Linked DNA regions of Homo sapiens: all the other regions are linked to region 4. Evidence: fine-mapped expression QTL. A gene starts in region 4. Each other region holds a variant in brackets. All regions are shown on one strand. Distances are between the middles of the regions.

Region 1 (7,796 bases), 210 kb after region 4:
AATGACTAGTGTTCTTTGAAAGGTTTTTTTATTTTTGTTTTTTTGGGGTTTTTTTTTTTTTTGAGACCGAGTCTTGCTCTGTCGCCCAGGCTGGAATGCAGTGGTGCGATCTTGGCTCACTGCAATCTCTGCCTCTCGGGTTCAAGCTGTTCTACTGCCTCAGCCTCCTGAGTAGCTGGGATTACAGGTGTGTGCCACCACGCCTGGGTAATTTTTTTTTTTTTTGTATTTTTAGTAGAGATGAGTTTCACCATGTTGGTCAGTCTAGTCTCGAACTCCTGACCTTGTGATCCGCATGCCTCAGCCTCCCAAAGTGCTGGGATTACAGGCATGAGCCACCACGGCCCGCCAAAAGGCTTTAACCCATGAACAAATGTTGGATCCTGACATTTTGTTTAAGAGTGATTTGTTCAATAATTGAACTGAGTTAACATTCTTGGTAAACCAGGTAATTGAATGAAGAAAGGTCACTAAAGGGAGAAATGACATGTTTTCTATTTTCTTTTCATGAAAACACTGTTTTTCCCCCTAATAAAGCATATTTTACTTTGGTGCTTATTTTTCCTCCTTGCAGTCTAATAAAAAAATCTGGACAATCAAACCTTAAAATAGCTACACTCTGCCCTCTGTAATGTAGCATTCATAAAAATTTGGAAGTATTTACATCCTCTTTCAAGATGAGCTTATATGACACAATTATTATTTGCTGATACATGAAAATACTGCACTTTAAGTTTCTCAAGACTCTGAAATATGTAAAATTCAATATTTTTATATTCCCAGAAATTGTTTCTTACAGGTTGAAAGTCTTTTAAGGGCATCACAAATTAACATTTACTCCTAATGCACGCCTAGAATGTATTTTAAATACTTACTAAGAAGAATGAAAATTCTTTGGTTGTTTTATATATAAATAAGGCATATATAATGACACTGTGTTCTGTGAGGGAGCAGGCCCTGTGAGAATCAATTCAGGACAGTATTTTTTTTTGTCCTTTCTCCATCCTTGATCAGAGATAAACTATTAAAACTTTAAAAAATACTCAAAAATATGTAAGTTTTTTGGTTGAACCTTTAGATTTGCTCATAATGTTTAACATAACAACATTTATTTCAAATCACTGAATTCATGGAGATGTGGACACGCTTGGTTTGCTCTATTTTTGTTTATGTGTGATAGTGGTTCTGTCATCATCATTCATGTTTTTTAAGGCCTGGTCATAAAACTTTAAATTTTACTAGTGTTACTTAATGTATATTCTAAAAAGAGAATGCAGTAACTAATGCCCTAAATGTTTGATCTCTGTTTGTCATTACTTTTTCAAAATTATTTTTTTCTGTAAAGTATAATATATAAAACTTCTTGCTTAAATTGAATTTCTATATTAGTGGTTAATTGCAGTTTATTAAAGGGATCATTATCAGTAATTTCATAGCAACTGTTCTAGTGTTTTGTGTTTTTAAAACAGAATTAGGAATTTGAGATATCTGATTATATTTTTCATATGAATCACAGCTGTTGACAATGTCCCATATATTTAAGAAATTATATCATACTGATACTATTTGTAACATTTTGATTTGATTTAATCTCCAGGGACAGAAATAATTCATTGGTAAAGTGTAATAATGCGTTTTTTAAAAATGCTTTGAGAGGTAATTACTTGCATATGAGAGAAATAAAACATTTGGCACATTGTTTACAGGTGTGAAAACTTTGTGGGTTTGTGTTATTCAAGTAACATTTGCTTTACTTTTTGTCTTTCCCTTTTCCTCTTCCAATCCCAAAATAGTGAGAAGTTATATTGATAGTTATGGAGGACTTTACAAGATACTAGTCAGAAAAGCTTTTTCTCAGGGGTACTGAGCCCCTTTATCACACTAGAGATCTGTGGCAGAGACCTCCAATACTGGGGGATTACAGAGAATGCGGTTGACCTAGGGGCCCAGCTGCACTTTGAAATCCATTGCTGTATTTGCATTGAGCCCATGCCTTCCGTGGTTTCTCTCAGCGACTGGCTGAGTATGAAGTTATACTAAGACATACTTAGTCTGGAAATTCTAGGAGACACAGAACTCCTCTGACAGCCGACTTTGGCTTGAAGACTCTTCAGTGGCCTTGCAGAACCTTTCTTAGACTGCATGGCAGTCTGGGATGTTCTACCATACCGCTGTCTTTCTCTTCTCCTCCCTCTTCCACATGGGGCTCAGACTACCAGTTTGGAAGGCTCACCCAGTGCTGGATTATCTGGTAGGAAGAATAAGTTCATGCTGAGGGCTGTAGCAAAGCAGGGGCATTAAAAAAGGAAAAAAAAAAAAAAGGAAGAAGACTGTACCCAAGCTTCGTAAGAAAAATGCCATCCAGGGTGGACTTACTTCCATGTGTTTTATGATTTAGTATTGTTTTTATTTTGAATTATGCATGAAGGAGGACACTATCATCTTTTTGGTGCTTTGAGTTTCTAAGTATGTTGATCTGGTGCTGCCTGGATATCTGTTTTTAACGAAGTTCTGTGTGTGTTTCTAATGTACAGCCAGGACTAAAAATTAATGCTCTGGACTTAAAATGATCAAATTCTTAAAGGGCTCTACAGATCTCAATGTTAGTTAATATTAAGTTGCAATTATTGCCAGAGCTGGAAGAATCATCTTTTTATTGGGGAGAAAAACCAAAGATTCTTAGAGGATAGAAGATTGCTCATAACAGGGTCATTTGTCCTCTGGGGACAAGCCCTTGTGGTTGAGAATCACTGCCAGAATGACCATGAGTACTGATGAAAGTGGGTTCTGTGCCATGTGTGTCAGCTCTAAGAAGAAATCGAGACTCACTGGAGCGGAGGGAGCACATTTCTCTTGGTAACTGTGCCGCTAGTGGGAAAATTGAGGCTTATTCTTGAATTCATGCTGGAAAGTATCTTCAGTTATAAGTGTGTATCATTCAAACAGTCAACTGTGGGTCTCTTTGAGGTGAAAAAGTCTTCAGAAAGAGTTT[T/C]CTGTTTTGTTTTTACAAACCGCAGACACATAGTTCCTTATTCAAAATTCAAAAATTCAGAAGGCTCTGAAAACCAAAAGATTTTGCAAAACTTTGAAACAAAGACATTTGGCAGCAAAATCTGAACTGAATTGACATGAGGCTATTCATGGTCTTTTATTCTATTTGGTGTAGATAATTTGGCTGTAGCAAAAGTACTTTATTTGGTTGTGGGGTGCTGCTGCAGATTTCCCTGGAGGCATACAAGCTCTATGTGGTATATGAACCATATTGTCTTTCTTTTTTCTTTTCTTTTTTTTTTTTTTAGAGACGATGTCTCACTCTGTCATCCAGGCTGGAGTGGTGCGATCTCAGCTCGCTGCAACTTTTGCCTCCCAGGTTCAAGCGATTCTTCTGCCTCAGCCTCCCGAGTAGCTGGGACTATAGGCGTGCACCACCACGCCTGGCTAATTTTTATATTTTTAGTAGAGACAGGGTTTCACCGCATCGGCCAGGCTGGTCTTGAACTCCTGACCTGGTGATCTGCCCACCTTGGCCTCCCAAAATGCTGGGACTACAGGCATGAGCCACTGCACCCAGCCCATATTGCCTTTCTTAAATGTGAAGTCCTCTATTCTGAAACATCTAGCCTCAGGGTTTTAGGTAAGAGATTGTAGAGCTGTATACCTACAAAATTCTCAATGTATTAAATTTGCTTCTCAAATTTTAGAAAAATCATAGACTATAGGAGAAACTCTAAGAAACAACAGAATTTTCTTCCCTCTCAGACCATACTAATGTTTCATTTTACAGTTAGTGCTGGCAAATTTTTTTTGATAAAGAGTTCAGAGAAATTGGTGTCAACATATATGTTGCCACATGATGTGTATCAGAAGGATGACACTTGAGAACAAATATGGAAACATAAGCACATCAAAATTATTTTTATCCCTTTTGTACATTACATATCTGCTGGATGAAAAGATTTTAAAAATTGACTTCTAGTGGGGAAAAAATTAGAATAGTAATGAAATATATATACCAACATGGTCCTCTATCCACTAAGATTATAACAACACTACAAAGAAGATTTAATTCTTTAGCATTATTTTAAACTTGAAGAAAGATCAAGCAACTTCCCCAGAGATTGACTACAATGCCTAAAGTGGTTTAAATGCCTTGATAAATGATTTTCACCAAGAGTAGATTTCAGTTCTTGGTATTTGGGTTTTGTTTGTTTTTGTAGAAAACATTTATCTTATGGTACCAGTTTTTCTCTTCACCCACTTTTCTCTTTTGCCATCATTTTAAGTCTTCCTTCTCTATGCATCATTTTAACTTTTCTTCTTATGGCACCTCTTTAAATATTAAGTTATCTTTGTTAAGTAGATATTATACTATTGCTTGGCAAACTACAACCTACAGGCCAAATCATCTGTTCTTACAAAGTTTTATTGGAACAACCACACCCATTTATTTGCATTGGTTATGGCTGGTTTTGCACTACAGTGGCAGAGTTGGGTAATTGTGACAAAGACAATACGGCCAGCAAAGCCTGAACAATTTACTATCAGACCCTTTACAGAAAAGTTCATTGATCCCTATATTGTGTCATATAATTGATCTTACAGATGGGACAAACAGATATCAGATGACTTACCCAAGGTCCTGTGGTGAGATAGGAACTGAAATTAGGATCCAACATCACCAACATCCCTCTCTATCTCTACTTCTTCCTAAAAACAAGGACATTGGTGTTGAATGAATGCAGCCAGTGTTGGCCTCTTGGATTTCTTTTAGAACCTTATACCCTTAACCCCAAATTTTATGTTCTCTCCCTATCTATGTTTTACACCTAACTGTGATATGGCATTTCCCATAGTAACACCCAAACCTAAGCCAGCCCTTAGTTAAAACATTTTTTTCCTGGAGAATTCTTACATATGGTCTAATATTACTATGACAGTTGACTAGCATATGTAGCTTTTGAGGTATACAAATGAGGAAATAAAAACTTTGGATATGGGACATAAAACTTGCCTCTATTTCCACAGCACAATCAAAACTAAAAATCAAATGCATGGGGTTCTACCATAAACCCTTATAGAGTTCTACTGATATCAGGAGTAGAAAAACCATGCCCAAGATACATACTTTATTATAACTGGCTAGGGACTTGCCAAAGTAGAAATGATATTTTTGAGCATGGCACATGACATTATAGAGTAGTAATGTAACAAATGAGCAGGTGTTCAAAGATTGCAATTTGAATGGAAACTATAAAATTTTAGCTTCACCAGAGGATGCTGCTGCAAATTAGTTAAGCAAGCACTTATTGATGGTTTAAATTAAGCAGCCACTCTGGAACAGGGCACATTTCCTTTCCCTGTGGAGTACTGTTAGAGAGGCTTAACCTACTTTGACACTTCTGATCAAATCTTCCCACTTCATTCAATTCACAGTGATTCATGCTCTCAAAAATAGTAAAAACGAAAAAAAAAAATAGGGCATGAACTAGAAGATTAACAGCGTTCTTAACTTTTTCAATAAAGATTTCTTGGACTATGCAGTCAGTTGAATAATCTATCACTGTTACTGAAGTAGGTAGTAGATTTTTTTTTTTCTTTACGCCAAGATAAGGGAATCATACTCCTGAAGAATTCTGGAATAGTTGTAAGGTCTATGGGACATTTGAATATATCTGGAATTATTGGCAGCAGGAAACAAGTGCTTTCTTGTGAAAAAGATTCCCATGGTTAAAACTGAGAGACCTGGAAAGCACTCCTTTCGAGTTGGCCTCAAATGAACAGAACAGAAATCTTGCATGACTATTATTACAATCCAGATGGTAAATGGACACCATTGAAAACACTGTTTAGTAAAGGCCATAAAGACTGAGTACCCATGACTTAGACTGGTGAATAAGAATATATTTCCCACACGACCTAAAATTAATGCTCAGTTGCCACCGAATTATAGTGCAGCTCTTTCAGAAGCACTAATGATACTTATTTTGTGTGGAATGGATTAATTTTAATCATTTTTTTTGGCAAAAATAATTCACTTGGGGGCCTTTGTTTTAGTTGTACTTACTCATAGAATAGTTAATGGTTGGGAGATCCTTATATTCAGCATAGATCTATTCTTGTGGCTTCCATCCATTGAGCCCAAATCCTTAGGGCTATCGGAATAAGAATGACTCTTTGTGTATATAGAAGCCTAGCTATGGGAGCACTACCTAGCAGAATTGAAGGCTGGCCTCATGTCCTACCATTTATCCAGCAAGCAAGTAAGTTTCATTTTCAAGTTCTCATCTTATTCTACCTAAACCATCCCTAATGAGACAAAACTTCAAGTCATCCCATAATCCTGGTGGCACTCCTTAAACAAACAAGTTCATCCATGTTCCTTTTAGGATATGGTGCACTGATCTGCAGGAATGTTCCAGGAATCAACTAAGGCAGATTAATGCTTTGACAATTCCATATTTTCTACTGCTTTTCTAACAGTAGTAAGTGTCCCAACCTATTAAAGCAATTACTTATGTAAAGTAACATTTCCCCATTATTGTAATTTATTAATCTTGTAACTTTTACTTATTTAAGAATATGGTTGAGTTATTCTTTTCACCACTTTTGCTAACAGTAAGGGTAAATTTGTATGGTACTGTAGATTTAAAAATCCCTTTACTTCTCTTGGCCTCAGTTTCTTCATTTGAAAGTAAGACCTTTGGACCAGATCTGCCTTTTTCACAAAAGGAGTTGAAGACTGGCCTCATGTCCTAAGGATCCCTTTAGATTTTACAAATATTGATAAAATGACCAGATGTAGAATTGTTATTTTGAAAAGGTGAGATGTATTGCTTGCAGAAGTTTTTTCCTCTTTCTCATAATATTCCTAAAGATGTTAAATGTGTATTCTTAATCATTAGTGAGTTTCTTTTTTAAAACCACAGAACATTTAACAGCACCACCACCAACAAAATCAAAAGAGAAAGTGTGGGAGATTGTTACTAGTCCTTGCATGGAGAAAAGTCTAGATGTGGAGACTGTAGGTAACTGAGTCCCAAAAGAGAGCCCCTGAAAGAACTGTGGGCAGGAATGGCTGAGTCGGGAGCTAGGTCATTGCTGTGAAAATGGGATCCTGCTCTTCCTTCTCAGATGCACACCCTCAGCAGCACCTTTTAGTTGTCTAAGGACCAGTGCTGTGTGAGGTGGTCATGGATCACACCATGCGCAACCTGGGCTCTCCATAAGCCATCACCCACTCAGAAGACTTCTCTGCTGGTCAGCCCTGTCATCTGAAATGTGTTGGAATCATTGCTTTGGATAATGGAATGCAAATGTTAACTCTTCAGATTAATTTGCATGGAGTAAATTACAAAATCAGAGAAAGGTCATTTTAACTAACATACTAAAGAGCTTTACAGTTTATAAATCCATACTTAATCTTTTTAAGTCTTAATAGCAGCCCTATATGGCAGGTAGTGATTTTCCATTTTGTAGATGAAGAAACATGTTTGTAGAAGTGATTTACCCAAGTTCATATAGGTAGGAAGTGCAGTCTCAGGAACTGGTTGAAATCACGTTCCTTTTCTATCGCACTATGCCACCACTTTGTAAGCACACCAACCTGCAGAAATGGACCACTTTCAAGCTCAAGGGAGCAAGATAGATAAAATTATAACTCATATGGATGCAGCTCTAAATGATTTTGATTCTAGTTATGCATGCATGCAGATGCATTCTTTATTCTTTTGAACCCCTTCTTGTGTGAGGAAATGAGAAGACATTCTGTAGTTCCTTTTGGCTTGGACTTCTCAGAG
Region 2 (7,886 bases), 200 kb after region 4:
AAAGAGTATTAGAGTATAAAAGTATATCTTTTTAGCCCTTTGTAATATGGCCAAATTCTAAATAATTTATTTGGGGATCTTTTGATCCTCATGTTCCTTTTTCTCCTAAGTACTACTTTGTATTCTTTAATATGCAGCTTTGAGAGTTACTGAATCATATATTATATTTCCATGAGATGTACTATTCTACTTATCCTCTAATCTTCATATATATATACACACACACATATATATACACATACATATATACACACGTACATATATGTACACATACAGATATACATACACACAAACACATATATACACACATACATATACACACATATATATACACATACAAATATACACATATATACACATACATATATATACACACATACAAATATACCCATATGTACACATACATATATACACATACATATATACACACACATATACACACATATATACGCAAACATACACATATTTACACATACATATATACATACATTATATGTATGTATATATAGTCATTTAATACTCATTTTGGTTCACATACTTATGATCATGCAACGTTTAAAACAGCATTTCTTGCTTTTTAGTTTTAGTTATATTTTTCCATGTTCTTAGAAATGCCTCATTAACATTTTTAATTCTTGTATTGCCATCTATTGAGGTGACATTACATTGTGTTTTTATCTCGTCTTAATTCATGACATTAAATTATTCTACTAACAGTAATAATGCTGTAATAAACATCATTATAGATTTTGCTTTTTTATATCTTGTTTGCTTTTTCATATTTCCTTAGAATTTACTTGAAAAAATTGAATTACTGGGTAAAGGGCTTTTGCAAAGTATTGTTAAATTCCTCGAGTTGCATTTTTGGAAAGGGGACGTGAATATTTTATCAACTAATTTGGTCTCCCTGCTGCCATTAGTGACTGAATATCTTAATCTGAATCTCAGAGTGTAGTGGGTTTTTAGTAGTGCTGAAGACAAGTTTTCTAAAGTGTATTATGGTGATAAATTATATTTTAAAAACTGTCAATGGCTTGAAGCACAATAGCCTAATAACTAACGAAAATACATACAAGATAGAAAGTGGGTAGTATTTCTTGTACTTGCATTTCAGATCTAAATATTTTAACATATTTAAATTTCAAGCTGCAGATAAATGCATTACATTATTAAATTCATTTCCCATTTTCTCTTTGAAGAAATTAAGGCAAAAGTGTTAAAAGATTTTAACTAATTCGCACAAGTGAATTGTGAAACAAGTAGCTATTGCTGTGAAATCTGCACTCCTCTCTGAGACTCATTCTGAAGATGAGATCCCAGTTCTTTGTGGATTCCTCTTCCTTATTCATGGCTTTTTGCAATTGTCAAGGAATGACTAGGTACCAAGCAACTTTAAAAAATGTATATTTAAGCATTGAAATAATATCAAATGTGATTTCTCTGCTTGTGGTTATATTGATTATATTATCCTTTTAATAATATTGGCATTATATTCTTGGTCGTAAAATGTCAAGGTCTTATTTATTCAGTATATTTATGTTCTGTATTTTCATATATATTATCTATTTTCAGCCATGCATTATATATAATGTCAGTAATAGTATTTCATTAGCATTCATTATAAAAAAACTCGTTTTTAATATTTGACTAATTCAAGTCACAGTACTTTTGAGATAGCTGAAAAGGAAAATAAATGTGTTTTAATGTGCTACTACTTATACTTGAATTATTTTATGCTCATATTTGTTTTTAGAAATAAATTGTGCCAGCTATTTTGAAATCTTAGAAATTGTTCATATTAATATTGTCATATTTTCTTTTCTATAAGAAATATAATTTGATATATAAATATACTTCCCCACGCATGTTTAACGTATAAGATCAAATGTTCAAAGCATTAAACATTAATTATCTTGGAATTTTATTATGTGTATAATATCTACTAATACCTCTATGTAAACCAGTGGTTCTTAATCTTTGAGATCACAGACCCCCCTCTGTGATTAAAAAAAAACTGACAAAAAATATTAACTGCCCTGAAAAAAGTTTTAGAACTACGTTTTCAAAATTTTCTATTTTATGTTAGGTGGTTCAGAGACCCACCGCAAAGTGCTACCAGTGACCCCTATTTCAAATCCCCTGTAATGTTAATGTAGTTATTTTATATTAGCATATGTTTCTTAATTAAAGTGTGTGATAATTGCTGGTAGATATTTTAATATTTCTAAGTTACTACAGAACAAAATGTATTTTACCAGAAGACCACTTGGTAAGCATTTATTACATGTTTTTCTTTTAAGGCAACAGTGGAAGTTAACTTACAAACATGCTGTGAATATTTTTCTAGCTTCATGTACCAATATGTAGAATTGTGCTTTTATTTCTAATTAATTTTTTCCTAACACTATTATTATAATTAGCTAATATGCAGTATTGTAAATACTACTTAAATGCATAACTTCCCAAATCTAGAGCCTGGTTTCCTTTTCAGAATCATATCAAAAAGTTGGAAGGAGAGACTTACCGATACCACTGTGCTATTCCTGGAAGCAAGAAGACAATCCTTATGGTTACAAATAGGTACTGACTTGAAGTGACATTTTTCCAAATAGTACTTAGTTGCATAGGTCACAAGAATTTTGAAGGCTAAAATGGCAGAAGAGTTGGAAAATTGTACTTAAAATTCTCCAAAGTGAATGGCAAAATGTTCATTTTCATAGAATCACAATACAGATCTAAATAGGTCCTTTGAGATTTTCTTTTCCGACCTCCTCATCTGAAAGATGCTGAAACTGAGACTCAGTGTGGCTTAGGGACTTATCCAAGTTACACAACCACTGAGAGAATGTAGACTAGGCTTTATACCTGTAATAGTGATACCCTTTTTCATGAATTACAAGTCCAGTTATGGAGGATTAATTCATGAATCACTTTTG[T/C]TACTAAGTTTTATTTTGAGTGATTAGCATACCCCTTTTAAAGGGTGGCATTACTTCTATATGTTTATCTCAGCTTTTCCTAAGCATTTGGTTGTGGTAGATTTTTCCAAATAGAAGAACTTATAGTAAACTACCAAGCTTATTTTCCTGGGATCTATCCTAGATAATAAAATTATCCCAAAATGACAATTATATATTAATAATTTTCAGAACTTTCTTAGTGTTGAGCTTTATAAGAGTAAGGCAAAGTTCTTACAGTGGCAAAATCTGCATTAGATTCCTCATGACTGCATTTAAATTTGTTTGAATGGGAATAAAGAAAAGCTGAATGACAGGATAAGAGAGGTTAACCAGTCATGTCAGAATCCTCATGTAAGAGAGGATTCTCCAGTCATGTGATTTGCTCATTAGTTAAGAGTTAAAAATATTCACAAAACAATCTAAAAAGCAGATTTTATGACTTTGACAAGTAATCACTTATTTTTTATGTCCATAATTTTATATTGTCTTCAATAGATTAAGCCAAAAACAATGTTTTTTTGTCTTAGATATTGTACTTAGCTGTTGCAATGTGTTAATTCATTTTAAAATTGTATCACTTTTATATAATTCAGTACTGGGCAATGAGAATCAATTTGGGGTTTTTTTGGTAATACTTATTGGTAATACTTAGTACCTATTTGATTTAAGCCATTCTGTGGGAGTATTACTGTATACATTATATATCTGGTTTTTCTTCAAGTACATTGAAAAATCATCATCATTTGAAATCTAGTCACTGATGGAGTTGTTTAGGAGGTAATTAGTAAAATATACCTGACCAGTAAATACTATGACTTAGTTTCCTTGCTAACCTTACTTAGTAGACTCCTTTTCTTTTCTCCTTTCCTTTCCTTTTCCCTTTCCTTTCCTTTTCCTTTTCCTTTACTTTTTCTCTTCTCTTCTCACTCTTTTCTTTTCTTTTTCCTTTTCTTTCTTTTTTTTGAGACAGGGTCTCACTCCGTCACCCAGGCTGGAGTCCAGTGATGCGATCTCAGCTCACTGCAACCTCTGCCTCCTGGGTTCAAGTGATTCTCGTGCCTCAGCCTCCCCAGTAGCTGGGATTGCAGGCATGCACCACTATGCCCAGCTAATTTTTGTATTTTTATTAGAGACGGGGTTTTGTTATGTTGTCCAGGCTAGTCTTGAACTCCTGGCCTCAAGTGATCCGTCCACCTTGGCCTCCCAAAGTGCCAGGATTACAGGCATGAGTCACAGCACCTGGCCTTAGTAGACTCTTTCTAACAAGAATGTATTTGATTGAGGTAGTTATCATTATGGTAATCATTTAGACCTTTAATGATTACATTAAAATAGTAGCATTTCTTCCAAATTCAGTATTCTTAAAAATAACATTTTCTTTTTTAAAGAAATGGGGTCTCTCACTGTGTTGGCCAGGCTGGACTCAAACTCCTGGACTCAAGTGATCCTCCAGCCTCAGCCTGTTAAGTAGCCTGGACTATAGGCATACATGCACCACCACATCCAAAATAATTTTTATTGCTAAAGTTATGGCTATTCATTGTAGATAACATAGAACAGGAGTCAACAAACTTTCTTTAAAGGGACAGATAGTAAAATTTAGACTTTAAGGGCCATACTGTGTTTCTCAACCTTTTGTTTTTGCCCTTATAGTAAGAAAACAGCTATGAACAGTATGTACAAGAATGACATAGCTGTGTTCCAGTAAAATTTTATATATTAAAACAGGTCTTGGGCTGGATTTGGCTTGAAGGGCACAGTTTGGCCACCCCAGTATTGAAAATAAGGAGATGAAAATAGGCTGGGTGTGGTGGCTTAAGCCTGTAATCCCAGCACTTTTGAGAGGCCGAGGCGGGCGGATCACTTGAGGTTGGGAGTTCGAGACCAGCCTGGCCAACATGGTGAAACCTCATCTCTACGAAAAATGCAAAAAATTAGCTGGACTTTGTGGCGCATGCCTGTAATCCCAGCTATTCGGGAGGCTGAAGCCAGAGAATCACTTAAACCTGGGAGGCGAAGGTTGCAGTGAGCTGAGATTGTGCCACTGCACTCCAGCTTGGGCAACAGAGCAAGACTGTCTCTCAAAAAAAAAAAAAAAAAAAAAAAAAAGAAAGAAAATAACTAACCATACATGCGTTCTAGTTTGCCTAGGACATAGTAGATTTGCTTGCACGTTTTGTCCCTATGTAATTATCAATAGCTATTCCTTTCATTCTTAAAAACATCCTGGTTTGAATAACAGATTATATGATCACCCCTAAAAATATCCTTTACCAGCAATGTCAGCACCCAAAGATAACCCCATTAGCTGGCACATTTTACGAAAACTATGTACAAAAAAATGCATTATTACATTTTAGTCTTGTCAATTTTTCATGTAACAATATACTGTCATCATCTTCCCAAAGCATTAAATATTCTTTGACAACATGATTTTTAATGACTACATAATTTTGTATTTGCAGATATGCTATAATTTATTAAAATACTCCCTCACTATTGGACATTTTTTCCCTAGTATCTTATTGTTATTTATTTGTAACCAAATCTTTTTCTATTATTTTATTAGAATAAAATTTTAAAAGGGGGATTGCTAATTTAAAAGTTGTGAAGATTTTTGAGGTCCTTTCTGTATATCGCCAAGTCATTTTTCAGAAAGGTTGTATCAGTTTTTTTACATACCACTCAACAATATATGAAAGTGTTCTTTCTCCTGTGTTTTGCTGAGACTAGGTTTTATCACTTAAACTTTTATTTTTTGCTAGCTTGATGGGTAGAAAATAATTTTTTGTTTTAATTAGCATTTCTTTGATTACTGTTGAGCCTGTACCTTTTAATATATCATCATCTATTTATATTTGCTACTTTGTGAATTACTTGTTCATATTCTTTGCTCATTTTTCATTGGTATGTTAGTCTTTTTCTTACTGAATTTAAAGAGCATTTTGCAAATTAATGATATTAGCCCTTTTTGTCAAATGTATTATTGACATGTTAGTGATTGCTAATTGAGTTTCTCAGTATATAGCATTTTTTTGTTTTGAAATTCACCCAAAACTTAGTCCCTGAATTTTTTTTTCTTATGAGTTTTTAAAATCAAAACACAAGTTCTCAAGACCTAAGTTTCTTAGGCTATAGCTTTACTAGTTGGTCCTAACTCTGCTATAGTTTATTTTAGTAATCTTTATTGAGAAATTCATTATTGAGCAGACTTTAAAAAAAAAAACCATCAACATATGACAAATACAGGGACACAGAGATGAAGTTACATCTCTGTTCCTTCCCTATTTTAATGGGCAGGGGGCTACAAATTATCAATGATATCACCGTGTGATAGGTGCTAAGAAGAGCGATGGACAGAGTCTCTGAGGACATAGGGAAAACTCTTGGTACAGTAAGATGGGGACCACAGTGTCATGGGAAAAGTGTCAGGGAGGCTTTTATAGATGAGGGAGTGCTTGAGCTGAGTCTTGAGTATGTAGCTCTTGCATAGGTAAACTAGAGGCAAGTGGAGGCATACAATAGTATGGCACTTTGACCAGTAAGATCAGTGTGGAATGGCTGGATGGTAGGGTGTTAGTGTTGGGAGATCAGTCATAGGTAGCAGCTCATAAGATTCTAAGGGTTTAGGTTTTATCATTAATGTGATGGAGAATCACTGGTTTTTGCTTAAGGTATAGTCTGCTATTTTATTTTTTTGAAACAGGTTCTCATTTTCATTGCCCAGTCTGGAGTGCAGTGGCTCGATCGTGATTCACTGCATTCTCGACTTCTCTGGGCTCAGGTGATTGTCCCACCTTGGCCTCTTGCATACTTGGTACCACAGGCATTCACCAGCTAATTTTTTGTATTTTTAGAAGAGACAGAGTCTCACTATGTTGCCCAGGCTGGTCTTCAACTCTGGGCTCAAGCAGTCCTCCCACCTTGGCCTCCCAAAGTGCTGGGATTACAGGCATGAGCCATCATAACTGGCTGGCAGTTATTTTTTTATTTGATATCACTTGTAGCTTCTCACACAGAATAGTACACACGTGAGTAATCTCTCTTTTTTTCTACCCCACAGAAGGTTTGTAAACAAGTAATATGATGAGGCTTGTAGTTTTAAAAGATCCTTGGCGGTTTGGATGTTATACTGGAAGAGAATCAGTCCAGAGGCAAGGAGACCAGTTAGAGACTGTATACATTTTGTATTGCTGCACAACAAATTACCACAGAATCCACTTCCAAGCTCATTTGCTGTTGTTGGCAGAATTCTAAGATCCCTGTTTCTTTGACCTCTGTCAGCCAGCGAGCTGCTCTTAGCTCCTAGAAGCTACCCTTATTCCAACCCAACAAGGGTGCTTTGAATCTCTGACTTCTTGGTCTCTTACGCAGATTTATAGTCCATGAACTTAGGTCAGGCCCACCTACATAAACTATTTTTGCTCAGAGTCACCTGTGCCTTATAATAACCTAATCTTGGAAGTAAAATCCATTATATTCAAAGTCCAGGGCACTATACAGAGATATATACCAGGGTTGGGGAATCTTGGAGACTTGTCTTAGAATTCTGTCTACCATAGAGACTGTGGCAGCTATCATGGTAGGAAGTGGGGAGGGCCTAAAGAATGAGGATTTGACTTATGAGACAAGGCTTGGTGACTGAGTGGATGTAGAGGAGAAAGGAATACATGATAGGGAGGGAGGGAGATAGATAGACAGATAGATAGATAGATAGATAGATAGATAGATAGATAGATAGATAGTTGGAGTTTGGATAAAAATCTCGAGTTGAGATCTGAGAGACCATTCTGAGGGAGTGTGTGAGTAGAAGACCAAGATTTGAACCCTGGTAAACATGGTGCAAGAGGAAGAAAATGAAGGAGACATTCTAGGTGGAAGGAGAACGGTAGTATTATTGGGATGGTAAAGAGAAGAGTTTAAAGATAT
Region 3 (7,886 bases), 120 kb after region 4:
TTGGTTATTTGGGTTCTTTTTTGGTTCCATATGAATTTCAGAATAGTTTTTTCTAGTTCTGTGAAAAATGACACTGGTCATTTGATAGGAATAACATTGAATCTATAGATTGCTTTGAGAAGTATAGCCATTTTAACAATATTGATTCTTGTAATCCATGAGCATGGAATGTTTTTCCATTTGTCTGTGTCATCTGTGATTTCTTTCAGCAGTGTTTCCTAGTTCTCTTTGTAAAGATCCTTCACCTCCTTGGTTAGATGTATTTCTAGGTACTTTGTTTTTTTGATGGCTATCGTAAACAGGATTGTGTTCTTCATTTGGCTCTCTAGCTTGGATGTTATTGGTGTATAGAAATGCTACTGATTTTTGTACATTGATTTTGTATCCTGAAACTTTACCAAAGTTGTATGTCAGTTCCAGGAGCCTTTTGGTGGAGTCCTTAGGGTTTCCCATGTGCAGAATCTCATGATTCCTTAAAAGCATGCATTTCTACTTAAACCATCATGTTTACTTTTCTAGAGAGCAATTAACTTGGAGGTGGGTGCCGGGGAGGTTAGGTTGCTTTTGTAATATTAATGGATGTACACCAAGAATATTGCTTCTGAGAATGATCTTATCCTCATTGGGAAAGATTTTTCTGTTTTTAGTTGAAATTGAGATGAAATACATCTTATTATAAATAAATTTTGACTCTTACTAATGATTACAGGATTGTAGACAATTAACTGTCTTTCCTCATGCTGAGTACATAAAAAAAAAAAAAAAAGCCTTATCAGAAATAAGCCGGCAGAAGCTTAGTTTCTAAGACTAAACTTTATTGCTGTGGCCTAGCAGTACAGAATTGAACCCAATTTTGGAGAAGTACGGTACTGCCCTTCTCCCTTTCATTTAAATTTGAATTTAAAATAACCAACATTCTTAATAAAAAGGAGATTTTTAAAAGAACTGTTGCAAAAATTTATCATGAGAATAAAATAATTCTCAATTATTTTATATTTTATAAAATATTTTATAAAATGAAAAATATTTTATGAAATGTAAGAAAGAGCTCTTTCTTCCTACAGTAACTATTGTTAATAGCTCAGAGTGTATGTTTCTAGACTTCACTCTCTACATACACAAAATCATAAATAACATCTTTTATATTACTTTTTTATTTAGTTTTTAAAGTAAATGCTTTTTAAAGTTTTTTCTTTTAAAAATAAATGCCTTTTTTCCCCTAAATATCTGTCTCTTCCAACAGAACTTCCTCAACAATTTCCAAACTGCTAAAGAAGCTTTGAGTACAGCCACAGTCCAGGCTGCAGAAAGAGCTGCTTCCAGCATGAAAGACTTGGCTCAAAAGAGTTTCCGCCTTTTGATGGATATTAATTTGAAAGCACCAGTTATTATTATTCCTCAGTCTTCAGTATCACCTAATGCTGTTATAGCAGATCTGGGTTTAATCAGAGTTGAAAACAAGTTTAGCTTGGTTCCTATGGAACATTATTCTCTTCCTCCAGTCATTGATAAAATGAACATCGAACTCACTCAGTTGAAGCTGTCAAGGTATAAATATGTAATCTAATTGTGTATTGCTTACTAGAAATAGGATTTTCATACAATTTTTACCTAAGGTAAAATGTTGTAGTAATTTGTGGTTTTCATTCCTTATTTCTTCTAATTATGAAACCTTGACCATTGGCTTCTTGGTCAGTGGTTAAACAGTCATGTATGTGCCTCATGGAGTCTGTATTTTCCCTTACTACATATGTAATATGATTTTTTTCATTCTATAAAAATTAGCTATTATAAAATTATAGTTTACTCAATACTTAGTTTAAATTTTTTATTTTTCTCACTTTGCACGTAGCTATTTCCTTTTTTATTTTTGGTGGGAAAAAACTTCGTAATATATAAAATTTAAGATTTATTTCTCATTTCCAAACCTTGTCACATTTGGGAATTTTCAGTGAGTTATCGAAAGGATTAGTGAATCGAAATGGGACAGTGTTGGCTCTATTGAGTGACAAGAGCGTTTATTTGGTTAGGCAAATGGTTGTTGGCAGGCAAGCTGGAATGACTATTACCGTATGTTCGTTTAACTTTTAGATTAGTTGAGTTTCCCCCTTGAGTCTGGAGAAGTACCAATAACATATTAAGGGCTAAGTATAAGATTACTTTCTTCATCTTCCAGTTTTAGGAGGATGTAACATTTGTTTGCATGACAGTAAACTATTCGCTGTATCAAACAGCCTTTGTGAAAAATAATAAATAATGCAGTTGTCATAGTGTATGAAAATTATGTTTTTGAAATCAGTGTTATGTAGGTTTGGTTTTGGATAGCTCTGCATATAAACTTATGTGTTGTGATTTAGATTGATCTTAAAAATGTGAAAAGAAGTGTATTCTAAAAGACTTCTGTTAGCAGCTTTTAGCCTTTATGAAATGCTGTGTGGAAACTGTTACACAATAGGATAGTCCTCATTTTAAAATGTAAATTTGAAGTAAAAAATAAATTCTTGTTTTTCTTTCAGAACTATTTTGCAGGCTAGCTTGCCACAAAATGACATTGAAATTTTAAAACCAGTCAACATGCTTTTGTCCATACAGCGAAACTTAGCAGCAGCATGGTATGTGCAAATTCCAGGGATGGAGATAAAAGGAAAACTAAAACCTATGCAGGTAAGTAGCTAGTATATAATATATGAAAATTTCTTGATAGGCTTTTCTCGTTGATCATAGTGCAGTTCTAGTGGATATCAGAATGTAGGAGTTGCTACGTTATTGATAAAGCTAAACCAGTTTTCTCTTAGTGAGCATTTGTCTGTTGTATGTGTACTTTTGCCCAAGTAATAAATTGAGTAAACTAGATTTTGTTTCCTATTTAAAAACAACAAAAATAAATAAATAAAAAATATGCAAATGAAATCATCCTTGTTTCCCTCACTTTTCTTTGTTTTCATTTTAGTTAGATATTTGGTAAAACCAGCAAGGAGTCTGAGATAAAATCTGTTGGAGTGTACTAAAAATATTATTCTTAATTTTGGAAAATTCTGTTAAAGTTTTAATGCAGTTAAATTGTAAGACAATGCAAAGTGATATTCAGACACTACATTCAAAGCACCTTAGTATTTTTAAATGTGTAGAGGGCCCGTTTTAATTAGAAAGGTGATATCATTTTGAATAGGCAAATGTGTATATTTGATAAGCATATAAATACACCATTATTTTTAATAGTGTAGTTTGTAGAGGCCTTGTTTTAATTAGAAAGGTGTTACCATTTTAA[T/C]AGGCAAATGTGTATATTTGATAAGTATACAACTTTTTTTTTTTTTTTTGAGACGGAGTCTTGCTCTGTGGCCTAGGCTGGAGTGCAGTGGCATGATCTAGGCTCACTGTGACCTCCACTAGCTGGGTTCAAGCGATTCTCCTGCCTCAGCCTCCTGAGTAGCAGTGATTACAGGCACCCGCCATCCACTTGGCTAATTTTTGTATTTTTAGTAGAAACAGGGTTTCACCAGGTTGGCCAGGCTGGCCTCAAACTCCTGACCTTAGGTGATCCACCCTCCTCGGCCTCCCAAAATGCTGGGACTACAGGCGTGAGCCACCGTGCTCCGGCCACAGCGTTATTTTTAATAATGTAGCTAGAAGGTTGCATATCAGCTCAGAGGAGGAGGTGAGACTGGTTGAAGGTAGTCGTGGAAGTATAGGAATCCTGTGATTCTTGTGTGCCTATGTGTGAAACTGTTGAAACCAAACAGCCGAGGATGGGATAGGGGTGAGAGAGACTAAACAAAACCAAACAAAAATTTAGTGGTTTAATGGGTTTTCATACCTGTGATTATTTCAGAGTTGGTTCTAACATGAAATAGGAAGGATCAAAGGAGCAGAGTTTTACTAGGGAAGAAGTTAAAATTGAAGCTTGTTGTAGAAATGAAGGGTTTCTGTTCATATACTAGTGGATATATTACATGAAGAACAATTATTAAATTTTGTTTGTTTGGGCATTCATAGGGTAGCCTTTATTCCAGAGTATGGGTACCTTCTTTTAATTTCTGTCTTTCTGCCAAGAGGTTAGATCCCAGGACTAATATTTGGCTCTCCCTTTCAAAGATTAGATCCCAGGACTAATATCTGACAATCCCTTTCAAAGATTTTGTGGTTATAGGTTTGTTGAAAGCATAAGTAAAACCTGAATGTCTGTTGGTAGCAGAACATGGATAAAATTTTGGTATCTTCATATAATGGATGTTGTAAAGCAGATAAAGTGAATAAAATAGAACTATATCAAACAAAATTGATATATCTTGAACATAAAAATGAAAAAAGTGAGTTGCAAAATGATAGTACAGTTCTATCAGTTTTATATTATTTCAGATTTTCAACAGGCAATATAATACTATTATATATTGTTTATAAGAGATGCAGTGTGATAACTTTAAGAAAAGTATTCATGGAAATAATCTCTAAATTAGGCTGGTGTCTTTCTCTAAGGGCGAAAGGAGAAGGGAATAGGGTCTCAGAGAAGTACACACGGGGCTTCTGCTATATCTGTAATGGGAAACGAGATCTGAAGGAAATATTGCAGCTTGTTAAGATTTGACAAAGCCAGGTGGTAGATTCACAGGGGAAGATTATAGTATTCTCTGTCCTTTTCCTTTATGCTTTTTAAGGTATTTTAGAAGAAACAAGAAAAAAAAGTAACATCTGATACTTTAGCATCAAAGTATTATAATTACTTTAACCAAAAGCATCCTTATTAACTCAGGAATGCAGCAACAGTGGATGAGGCCACCACTGCCTAATTTGTCGCTGATCCAGGTCTCTCTAAACACCCCCCTTTGGTCATAGTCTGTATAGTTTTCCTGGGCCTGGGATGCAGCCAAGAAAGGGTATCAGGCAGGTGACACTGGCAAGTTGTTTCCCTGGTCTGGGCTGCAGCTAAAAAAGGGTATCAGGCAGGTGATACCTACAGGTTGTTTTGGGTGGATCATTTTGATGGTTTTTAAAGAACTGTGGGGCTGCCTTTCAAAATTGTCCTTCATACTTGTTCCCCCCCCACCCCACAGCAAAGTGAAAGAGGGGTGAACTTAGTTGCCCTTCAGAAAGCTGTGGTAATCTTGGTTGGTATGAGAAGTGGGTTGGGATATACAAGGAAATTCTAAGGTGTTAAAATTACACCTGTTATATGAGGCCTGGGGCTTAGGACAAGCCATAAATCCCTGGTCATTATCTTGTACTTAAATAGCTCTGTATTTTCATTTAAAGTGGGAACTAGGCAATTTCTCTGGTGGTAGGGACCTAATTTGGGGGACATAGGGTACTGTGGTATTCAGAGGAGATTTGCTATGCATGCGTGCTTGCATGCATGCTTGTGTGAATTTGTAAGTACTTGAAACAGGCCTTTGGAGCCACTGTGTCTTACATAAGGTAGAAGGATAAGGAGCTTCAAAGACAGTACTGGTTTAATGGATTTTAGCAGCCAGTAGCAGTTTCGTTTGTTTTAGTTTCTTGTTCTGCAGCCATCTGTGAGAAAGTTGGTATTATGCCTATTTTAGAGATTAAGAAACTTGATCACGCCTGTAATCCCAGCACTTTGGGAGGCCGAGGCGGTTGGATCACGAGGTCAGGAGATCGAGACCATCCTGGCTAACATGGTGAAACCACGTCTCTACTAAAAATACAAAAAATTAGCCGGGCGTGGTGGCGGGCGCCAGTAGTTCTAGCTACTCACGAGGTTGAGGCAGGAGAATGGCGTGAACCTGGGAGGCGGAGCTTGCAGTGAGCCAAGATTGTGCCACTGCACTCTAGCCTGGGCGACAGAGCGAGACTCCATCTCAAAAAAGAAAAGAAAAGAAAAGAAACTTGAGTTAAGGACGTTAAGAAACTTTGCAGCAAGACAGCTTGAAAGTGGTAGTTGATACAGATCTGCCTGACTCAAAGCCCTGGCTCTTTTTCTTTTTGCCACACATACCCTTTTATGAAGGTAAAAGATAAGATGCTACCTTCCTATTTTTTGTTCTTTAAACATTCTTTGTAGATACATTTGTTATTGTTCTAAATGGTATTATTCTTGATAAGTTAAACAAATGTTTTATGTATGTCCAGATGCATATATACTGAGATGAAGAGCTACGTAGCAGGAGAGCATCTTTTTACTATTTGGTAGAGACTAGAAACTGAACAACACTCGTCCTGTATTTAGTTTCAAGGAGAGTAAATAATATAGAAGAAGGAACTGGTACTGGTTGAGATGAGAGAGAGACAGAATGGAGATGGGAAGATAGGGAAATGGGACAGATAGGCACGGGTCCAGGAACAGGAAGACATAGTAACAGATAAGCCATAGAGAGTGTTGGAGTGCCAGAGGCAGGGGCCTGGATATGGGCGAAGGCAGAAGTGTGTGTGCACACAGTAAACAAGGTGAAATACTTCTGTTCTGGTATTTATAGTCCTAACTCTAACTCTCTTCTTTTTAAGTAGGTGAACAATTAATTTGAAAAACCACAAATCGAGATATAGATATGATAGTCTACATTTTTTTTATTACTTAGAGTTAACAAATTATTGGTGGTTTCTAGGTTGCTCTCAGTGAAGATGACTTGACAGTTTTAATGAAAATTTTGCTAGAAAATCTTGGAGAAGCTTCCTCACAACCAAGCCCTACACAGTCTGTGCAGGAGACTGTAAGAGTGAGAAAAGTTGATGTTTCAAGTGTACCTGACCATCTCAAAGGTATAAATTGATGATATTTACTTTATGGAGAAAAAATTGGTGTTAATGTCATATTTATATTTAGTATTTTTCTAGCTGTCCAGCACAATGTGGTATGAACTAATTCAGTATTGTACTACTTACTGTGGAAATTCGGCTGGGGCTGGGAGGTATGTCTGTTCTCTGCTACAGGGGGAAGGGTCACTTGTTGTTGGCATGGTGCTTGTTTACCCTTTACTTGTGAATGCTAAATTTGCTGAATTCACTAGGCACTGAAGTGGCGTATCTTGAGAGAAGAATCAAGCTAGATAGGCAGTGTAGTAAGGTCCCAAATTAATTAAGAGAGAAAAGGACCTTGGTATCACATGTCATACTCAGGTGATTGAACCATGAGAAAGGAAGGTATTCTTGTAACAGCTTTATTTATCTGGACTTATTGGAGCGTTATGTTTCAAATACATAAGATAATTTTTCAGATCATTAATTTGAACCTATTAAAAGCAGTGAACCTTTTGAATTCAGCCATTTTTAAATAATTTTTCTAAAATACAAGGTTTCTTTTTGATTTCTTAAACAGATTATATTACATATAATTTCACTCTTTTTTCATAATTTAAAGCCATTGATGTGAATATTATGTTTAATTAGACTGTAAATAGGTTAATATTTTCATGGCTAAAAAGAGATGAAGTACCCCTTGCCCATATAGTAAATGGTCCTGGCTGCTGTGCTTTTCTAATGCTCTCATACCATCAGCTGTTACTTCAAATGACAGTAATCGGTAAAACTACCAGTTGATATACCATATCAACACTGCTTCTCCTATAGTTAGGCTAGGTGTGTTTTGAAATCACACAAACAAATGACTAGAACAGTGTGCAAGGTTTCTGGTTTAAGTGGATAGTTTTAAGTATTGCATAAGCTTGATGAGGTCAACATCTCCCCAGGTGAAGTTTGTGCCACCATACAGACAAATGCTAGATAAAAAGGCTGTTGTTATAGTTAGACAGGAACTATGTAGAGATGAATAAACTATTAACAGGCAAGCCTTATGTGATTAATGATCTCACTGTGTTCAGCCGTGATCACGATCATGTATCTGGTTCTTGCTATATGGACACCGTGTCACTTGGGAAAATTTGTGAATTCAAATGGAAGCTGCAAAGATGATGAAAATTAGAATATAAATTATT
Region 4 (7,886 bases):
AACCACCCAGTACTTGGGAGAATGGTGTAACAGGGTGCCCGGAACACACAAATCTACTCACAGGAAGACAGTGGCTGTTCCAAGCTCCCAGCTGTAGCTGTGGGAACATCCAGTATTGGAGCTGGAAAACAATTCTGTAAAGTGAGCATGAATAGACCACATACCATCAAGACCAGAGGTGCTCTAAGAGTAAAAGGAAATTAAACATTTTAAAGCATACTTACAAAAATATAGGAGGTTGAGTGTCAAGGAAAGCAAGAAGAGAGATTACAACCAATAAAACACCAGTGTTCTGACTTATGCATCTTGTTCAACACAACTAGAGTATGGGGTACTGGAAAGAATACAGAGCAGGGAGTCAGGACACTTGGGTTTGGGTTTTTGCTCTGACAGTCACTAACTTGTGGGACTTTGGGCAAACCCTTAATTCTCCCTGGCACTCAGTGTCTCCATCTGTCAATTGAGGGGGCTGGATTAACAGGATGATCCTCCCTCTGGCACTAACATTCTGAAATCCACTCCCGTGCTTTCTCCTAGTTAACCTCCCTAACTTTTCCTGCAGTCCATGGTGTCATGGCTTATACTCCAGCTTTCTCCTCCATTTCCTTTCCCCCAAATTCCTTCTGCTTTTCTCCAAAAACTCTAGGGTTGGGGAATAGGGTATGGGTGGTGGTTAGTGTGAAGTTTTTTTTTTTTTTTTAAACACTTTTGAGTTAATTTTTAAGTGTCCCTAACTTATACTTTTGTTTTTAACAGAAATACTTTGCTCATCTGTTTTTATTGTTTAGTCCCTCATTGAAGTTTAGTTTTGTAATTTCCTTTGTTGTCATTCTCATTGTTCTTAAGCCAGAATGAAGGCAAGAACTATAATTAATTAGAATGCTCATTTTCTTTAACCTCTGTTATCCAAATTATTTCTGATATAATGCCATACATAAGGGTGCTAATGGTGTTTCTTGACATTGGTTATAGTTTGTTTTAAATTGGGACTGTATATTTCTGACTTGTTAAATAATGGAAGATTTGGGGCATTACTGAATGCACATAATCAATCCCTTAAAACATGCTGAAAATGGAAAATAGTAAAATTTAAAGCTTTTTATACTACATGATAATAGCATTTTTTTGTACCAAAAATGTAGAGCCAAATTTTCCACTCTGAGATTTATTTTTTCTGTCATGAACCTTTCAAAGTAAGATCTCTGAAAATGACTAATAGCCCAGTGTTGATTAAATTGTATAATTACCAGAAGAGAAAAGGGTGGCAGTGCTCAGAGAATCAAAGGAAATTAATATCTGCTGTGTGACTTTGGGTAAGTCACTTAACATTCCCGAGCTTAATTTTTCTGTAAAATGAGGACCATACTACTACCTGCATTAGCTACCTCACAGCTCTTTTGTGAGGAGTACACAAAAATGCCTACCTTCGCATAATAATGACATGAGGCCTTACAAAGTATAACTGAAACATAATAAAATTGAATGATGCATATGAAAGCACATTTACACATTATTCTTTCAAAATTACCAAGTTATACCATAGAACTGTAAGGAATTACTTTATTAGACAAAGCATTAGTGTTACTCACTTCTCCCAAGAGATTGTGCCTATTGCTCCACCTGCTTGACCAAGCTATGTTGCCTGTGCCATCTTTCCTATCATCTTATACTGTTATTCATACATCCTTGGATTGGCTTCTTTCTTAACTTTTTATGGTACATGCCTTATCTCAACCAGAACATATATTGCTTCTTTACATTCCTCTTGGAGCATAGTCAGTGTGAATGTAAAAAGGAAGCGGGATTGTTAGAGTGTATGACTAGAAAGAACGTGGAGAAAGTTTGAAGAGAGTGTTCTAAACACTGGGAAGTTATTGGATGTTTTTGAGCAGGTGACTAACCTAAGCTCACCTGTGCTTTGGGAAAACACATCCGGTGTTCATGAGAATAGACTGGAGGAAGGAATAACTGGAGGCTAGGAAGTGAATTTCAAGGAGATGGATGGCATGGTCCAGAAGAAAAACATGGAGAATTTAGGAAAGATGGCAAAAGCAAAATAGACAGGTTAGGCTGTTATTTGGTTGTGGATGGTGAAGAAATCCAAAGTACTTACTAGTATTTTGTCTTTGTGACCAGCTAGGAAAAACAGACGGTTAAGGATTTATCTTCTTAAAGAGGAATGGAGTGTGCAAAAGTGGGAGAGGAATGTGATCTTGATAGTACTAGTTAGTACTGACTGGGTCTTTCTTTGTACTTTTAATTTTATTTAATACACAACACCAATTGTAGCCATTTTGATTTTCTTTCTTCTCCAGCGGACTTTGAATTTAAGATTTTTCTTTGTGATCCTGTGCAAGCCTAGGTTGTTTAAGAAAAATACACGAATAGTTTCTCAGACACTTCCTCGTAGCAAAGCACTTATTAATGCTTGTGACTACAAATAATCAGCATTTCTTAGGTTTCTTCCTGTGTACTGTATCTCAACAACTTTTTGAAATATATTTTAGGAAAAAATTTCTAGTTCTCTAAAGAGGTGAATCTCAATGGGTGGTTAAATTTCACAAGGGTTGAAAGATCTTGTGGTATAAAAGCTCTGCTTTTAAGGTCGTGCTACATCAAAGACAGTTCAACGATAGCATGGAAGAAAGTGATATATAAATAACAAGTAACTCATACTTAAAAAGGCACTACTACGTTTTGTTTTTTATATCTGTAATGAGATAGGTAACTGGTTAGTGGCTAGTGAATTAAAAGCGAATCTTAGAGAAAGGGGAAAAGAACGCGTTTCCCACAAAACGCGTATATTCAGTTCTCATTCTATGATATCTGCCATTTGATGTGGTTCTGTTCCCCTCCTCCCACTTTCAAATTATTTGTCGCGCGCCAGTGGTCCCAGCTACTCGGGAGGCTGACACAGGAGGATCTCTTGAGTCCAGGATGTCAAGTCTGTAGTGAGCTATGATCCCGACACTGCATTCTACCCTTGGCAACAGAGCGAGACCCTGTCTCAAAACAAAACAAAACAGAAACAAAATAAAAAAACAATGTTTTCAAGAAGCAGAGACCAAGCCCCAGGCGGAGTCGAACTCTAGCAGGACAAGAACGCGGTCGGTCCCTTTCCCCCACCTGATCCACAGGTGCAGGGGTGGTTGCCTAGGTGACGCTCAGCGCATACTCCAGGCCAGGCGGCTCCGGACACCGCGATGCGGCCGGAGTTCAACAGCAGGTGACGGCGGGAAAGCAGAGCGGCCACATAGATGTCCCTGTACTCGGTAACTCTTGCCCTCCCTTGTTCTTCTCGAAGGTCCTTTTTTTTCTCGTGCACGGCTGACGAGACAGGCGCAAGCTAACTTCCCCCGCACTCCTCCGTCGGCCTCTAGAGGGCCAGGGCTGCGGCGCCTACAAAGCCTCGGGATCACAGCTGGGCCTCCTTAGCTACCGGCCGGGCGACAGCGCGCCTGCGCACCGGCGGGGTCACGCGCGCGGCGCGGGGGTGGGCCTGCGCCGGAGGGGCTGTCATTTGCAGCGCTGGTCGCAGCCCTCAGCTGCGCCGGGCGGTTCCGGCTCCTCCCTCTCCTTGTGCCTCAGCGCCACCATGGTGCTGGAGTCGGTGGTCGCGGACTTGCTGAACCGCTTCCTGGGGGACTATGTGGAGAACCTGAACAAGTCCCAGCTGAAGCTGGGCATCTGGGGCGGTAAGCGAGAGGGCGCGGCCAGTGGGCTGCGGGCGCTGAGGGCCCAGCCGAGGGCTGCTCCGTCCGGGATTCTGCCCGGGCCCTGCTCCCTGCGCCGCCTGAGACTCCCCATCCCGGTGCGGCAGGTGCTAGATGCGGGAGCCTCTGCCGCCCGCGGATTCTCGGGGTCCCAGTCCCGACTCCGGCTGGGGAGATGCGGCGGGATCCCGCCCGCGCTGCCAAAGTTCCCACCTTTCTCGTCCCCCGAGGCCAAGCCCTGGCCCTGCTGTCCCCGCCCTGCCCGTTTCTGTGGTCCTCTCGCTGCACTCAGGGTGGCCCCTTTGGCCCTACAGCATAAAAACAGAGCCCTTTCTGTTTCGGTATCGCGTGGAGTGAGCATGGTTGTCTGGTCATATACGCTCGAAGTGGCACTAAGAAAAAAGGAGGAAGTTGCATCTCGCAGTTATCTTCACTATCATTTTACAGGGAGCAAGAACTGGGTTCCTTCTCTTTAGGATTACCGGGTTTGGAGAGGAACGGGCAGGAGATCTTTAAGATAGGCGTGTGCTTAGGGATTCTTACTCTTAATGCTTTCAGCTCCTGTGAAAATGATTTCTTCCTTTAATATTTACTTTTCCGTCAATACGAAGAGGATTTTGAATTTTGTTTTGGAGCAATAGAGAGAAATTCAAGCCTCGACCAGCATCGTCATTAATTAGGTGTCTGCTTGGTTGCATGCTCAGGAATTTATGCCAACGTTTTTATCCTGGAGATTAAGTGTATAAAAGTATTCAGGAAATAGTGTACTTAAACATACACTCTTCAACGAGCTTAATCGTTTGCATGAATTACGTGTTAAGCTTTGAGGACTTTGGGACTTTCTCACTCCACAAAAGGTTTGGGAACTTTGTCAGCTTTGGAGGAAAATTCAAAAAACGACTCAAATGTATGGATCTGCTTTTAATTCAAGCAACAACAAATAGCTATAGACTTCCCCTGTCCACTAGGGTAACCACTAGCCACTGTAGCTGTGGAGCACTTGATATGAGGTTAGTGCTAATTGAGACTTGCTGTATGAATTAAAACATCGTTTTGAATAAGCATTACTCCTAATGAAGTAGGAGAAAAAAATAATACCTCAATAATTTTTATGTTGCTTATGTGTTGAAATAATATTTGAATATATTGGGTTAAATTAAATATAATATTAAAGTGTATTTCCCGTGTTTTTTAGTTTTACTTTTTTTCTTTTTAAACTTGGCTTCTAAAATTTATAATTACGTATATGGAACATATATTGGGCAATGCTGTTTATACCCTGAATTACGGAAGAGCCTGGTTGTTGTTGTTGTTGTTTTTTTTTTTTGGCTTGTCTTTTTGAGACAAGGACTTGCTCTGTTGCCAAGGCTGGAGTGCAGTGGCAAGATCGTAGCTCATTGCAGCCTCCAACTCCTGGGCTGAAGTGATCCTCCTGCCTCAGCCTCCCAAAGTGCTAGGATTACAGGTGTGAGCTATAGTGCCTGGCAAGAGCCTGTTTTTAATAGGTGGCTGATCATTTGATTGGTTCACTGTGGTTTGCCCAACAATACAATAGTCCCTTGGTATCTATGGGGGATTGGCTTCAGTACCCCTGACCATACCAAAATTGGAGGTTGCTCAAGTCCCTTAAATAAAATGGCCTAGTATTTGTATGTACCCTATGCATATCCTTCTGTATACTTTTGGTCATCTCTGGATTGCTTATAATACCCAATAAGTAAGTGCTATGTAAATAGTTGTTCTGTTGTTTTTTAATTTGCATTTTTTTATTGCTGAATTGATACTTTTTATTTTTTCCCCCCGAAATATTTTTGGTCTGCAGTTAGTTCAGTCCGTGAATATGGAGGGCCTACTGTACATTCTTTGTTTACATCCCCCCACCACACTCAATACAATGTAAAGGAAAGGTAAGTAAAGAAAGACACATTTAAGGAATTAAATGACCAGCATCTTCTGCAGAAATCAAGTATTTCTTCAGAATACTGGCAATATTCTTTCCAGTGATTCCTTATAGTTTGTAAACATTTGAAACTTGAAAACGCACCGGAGTAGCAAATCTGAAATCTGAATAGGCCTAGTGAATGGTGTGCTGTGTTGGACAAGCCACTTACCTTATTGGGCCTTAGTTTCTTCATCTTAATTTAAACTTTATAGAAAAAATATTTTTAAATTCTGAAAAGTTTAAATCATACTGGATGATATAATACTTTCATGTAATTACTCATATTTCAATGTTATAATATTATGCCATATTTACTTTAGACATTTTCTTTTTAAAAAGATAAAACGTATGGATATAGTCAGAGGTTCCATTGCCATCAAATGTTACTCTCTTTTATCTTTAAAATTGGAGGTTGGACTAGGTAACATCGAAGGTGATGCCAATATTCTGTTCTTCTGATAATGGTTTTACCATGACATTGAGGAGTATACTGCTTGAAGATTTTGAAGTTTTTCACAACTGAAATTAAAAATGTCGTAATTTTATGTTATTTCCCCTTTTGTCTTTTTTTGGTGAAATCTAGAAAAGGAGACTTTCTTTCATCTCATTTTTAAATTTTTAGAATAAGGTATTCTGCCAGTGGCCAACATTAACTTTATAATAGGCCTGAGCAAATAAACCCATTTCTTTCACATATTGTGTCTAGTGAACATCCAATCAGGGATTCTCCTAGCTTTATCAGCTCACAACTCTGCCTCTGTAAAGCTTTGCTGCCTTTTATTTTTGTGGTTGCTATAAAGCTAGAAGTCACGAGCTTTTATCATTATTGCACAGTCTGTTGTTGATAACCCTAATTTCTCAATAAAATTGGAAGGCAAGATATCTGAGTTGATTTTTCCTGTTCTTTCAAAATATTGCTAAAGAAATTTGTCTTAAACTTTTTTGGGTAAACAAATGGGAATATTAATTTAATAAAATAGGTGACATTTTATGATAACCATGATGTTGACAAGTTTTACAAAAAATTGAAAATTCTATATAATCTTCTTTGACAACTATTTGCTTTAGCAGATAAGGTTTACAGTTCACAGAGTTTTTTTTTTGTTGTTGTTGTTGAATTTTCAAGTCTTGAGAAAGGGAAGAATTCATCTTGTAAATATTTCACTGTAGGGACCAGCCCCACAGGGTCGGTGGGTCTCTCCCTGTGTGCGGCGACGAGAGAGTGTAGAAATAAAGACACAAGACAAAGAGATAAAAGAAAAGACAGCTGGGCCCGGGGGACCGCTACCACCAATGCGCGGAGACCGGTAGTGGCCCCGAATGTCTGGCTGCGCTGTTATTTATTGGATACAAAGCAAAAGGGGCAGGGTAAAGAGTGTGGGTCATCTCCAATGATAGGTAAGGTCACGTGGGTCACGTGTCCACAGGACAGGGGGCCCTTCCCTGCCTGGCAGCCGAGGCAGAGAGAGAGAGGAGACAGAGAGAAAGATAGCTTATGCCGTTATTTCTGCATATCAGAGACTTTTACTACTTTCACTAATTGACTACTGCTATCTAGAAGGCAGAGCCAGGTGTACAGGATGGAACATGAAGGCGGACTAGGAGCGTGACCACTGAAGCACAGCATCACAGGGAGACGGTTAGGCCTCCGGATAACTGCGGGCAAGCCTGACTGATGTCAGGCCCTCCACAAGAGGTGGAGGAGCAGAGTCTTATCTAAACTCCCCCGGGGAAAGGGAGCCTCCCTTCCCTGGTCTGCTAAGTCGCGGGTGTTTTTCCTTGACACTTTTCGCTACCGCTAGACCACCTTCCGCTCGGCAACGGGCGTCTTCCTAGATGCTGGCGTTACCGCTAGACCAAGGAGCCCTTCTGCTGGCCCTGTCCGGGCATAACAGAAGGCTCGCACTCTTGTCTTCTGGTCACACCTCACTATGTCCCCTCAGCTCCTATCTCTGTATGGCCTGGTTTTTCCTAGGTTATGATTGTACAGCGAGGATTATTATAATATTGGGATAAAGAGTAATTACTGCAAACTAATGATTAATGATATTCATATATCTCTAAGATCTATATGGTATAACTATTCTTGTTTTATATTTTATTATACTGGAACAGCTCGTGTCCTTGGTCTCTTGCCTTGGCGCCTGGGTGGCTTGCCGCCCACCTCACATACCTGATCTTACTATTCTTTGGAATCAATTGATAAACTACTTTGATACATCTTAACTGGA

Alleles and levels. Positions count from the first base shown, and alleles are read on the strand shown. Sizes are in standard deviations (SD) of each study's normalised expression. Not every link is listed here.
With allele C in place of T in region 2, the expression in tibial nerve of the gene that starts at base 3,523 in region 4 is lower (small effect, 0.21 SD a copy in GTEx).

Evidence for each region. PIP is the estimated chance that this variant, and not a neighbour inherited with it, causes the effect.
Region 1: its variant is the best candidate, but not a certain one, in a credible set for the expression of VPS13C in whole blood (TOPMed, PIP 0.81).
Region 2: its variant is the best candidate, but not a certain one, in a credible set for the expression of VPS13C in tibial nerve (GTEx, PIP 0.74).
Region 3: its variant is the best candidate, but not a certain one, in a credible set for the expression of VPS13C in whole blood (INTERVAL, PIP 0.74).

The regions. Positions count from the first base shown.
Region 1 is chr15:61,846,308-61,854,103 of GRCh38, reverse strand. It overlaps VPS13C (vacuolar protein sorting 13 homolog C), which reads left to right. Exons shown (of 85, transcript NM_020821.3): 85 at 1-1,715. It overlaps LOC124903501 (a long non-coding RNA gene), which reads right to left. Exons shown (of 3, transcript XR_007064668.1): 2 at 4,632-4,707. Among named protein-coding and RNA genes, the nearest start is that of LINC02349, 120 kb to the right of the region's middle. The variant T/C (reference allele first, on the strand shown) is at 2,993.
Region 2 is chr15:61,858,134-61,866,019 of GRCh38, reverse strand. VPS13C (vacuolar protein sorting 13 homolog C) reads left to right here. Exons shown (of 85, transcript NM_020821.3): 82 at 2,492-2,580. All of the region lies in intron 2 of LOC124903501 (a long non-coding RNA gene), which reads right to left. Among named protein-coding and RNA genes, the nearest start is that of LINC02349, 130 kb to the right of the region's middle. The variant T/C (reference allele first, on the strand shown) is at 2,937.
Region 3 is chr15:61,935,425-61,943,310 of GRCh38, reverse strand. VPS13C (vacuolar protein sorting 13 homolog C) reads left to right here. Exons shown (of 85, transcript NM_020821.3): 46 at 1,244-1,548; 47 at 2,517-2,664; 48 at 6,561-6,714. Among named protein-coding and RNA genes, the nearest start is that of VPS13C, 120 kb to the left of the region's middle. The variant T/C (reference allele first, on the strand shown) is at 3,269.
Region 4 is chr15:62,056,084-62,063,969 of GRCh38, reverse strand. It overlaps VPS13C (vacuolar protein sorting 13 homolog C), which reads left to right and starts at 3,523. Exons shown (of 85, transcript NM_020821.3): 1 at 3,523-3,695. The coding sequence starts at 3,596. VPS13C-DT (VPS13C divergent transcript) reads right to left here and starts at 3,467. Exons shown (of 2, transcript NR_135690.1): 1 at 3,127-3,467; 2 at 1,536-3,002. RefSeq lists an enhancer at 3,212-3,261 and a silencer at 3,312-3,661.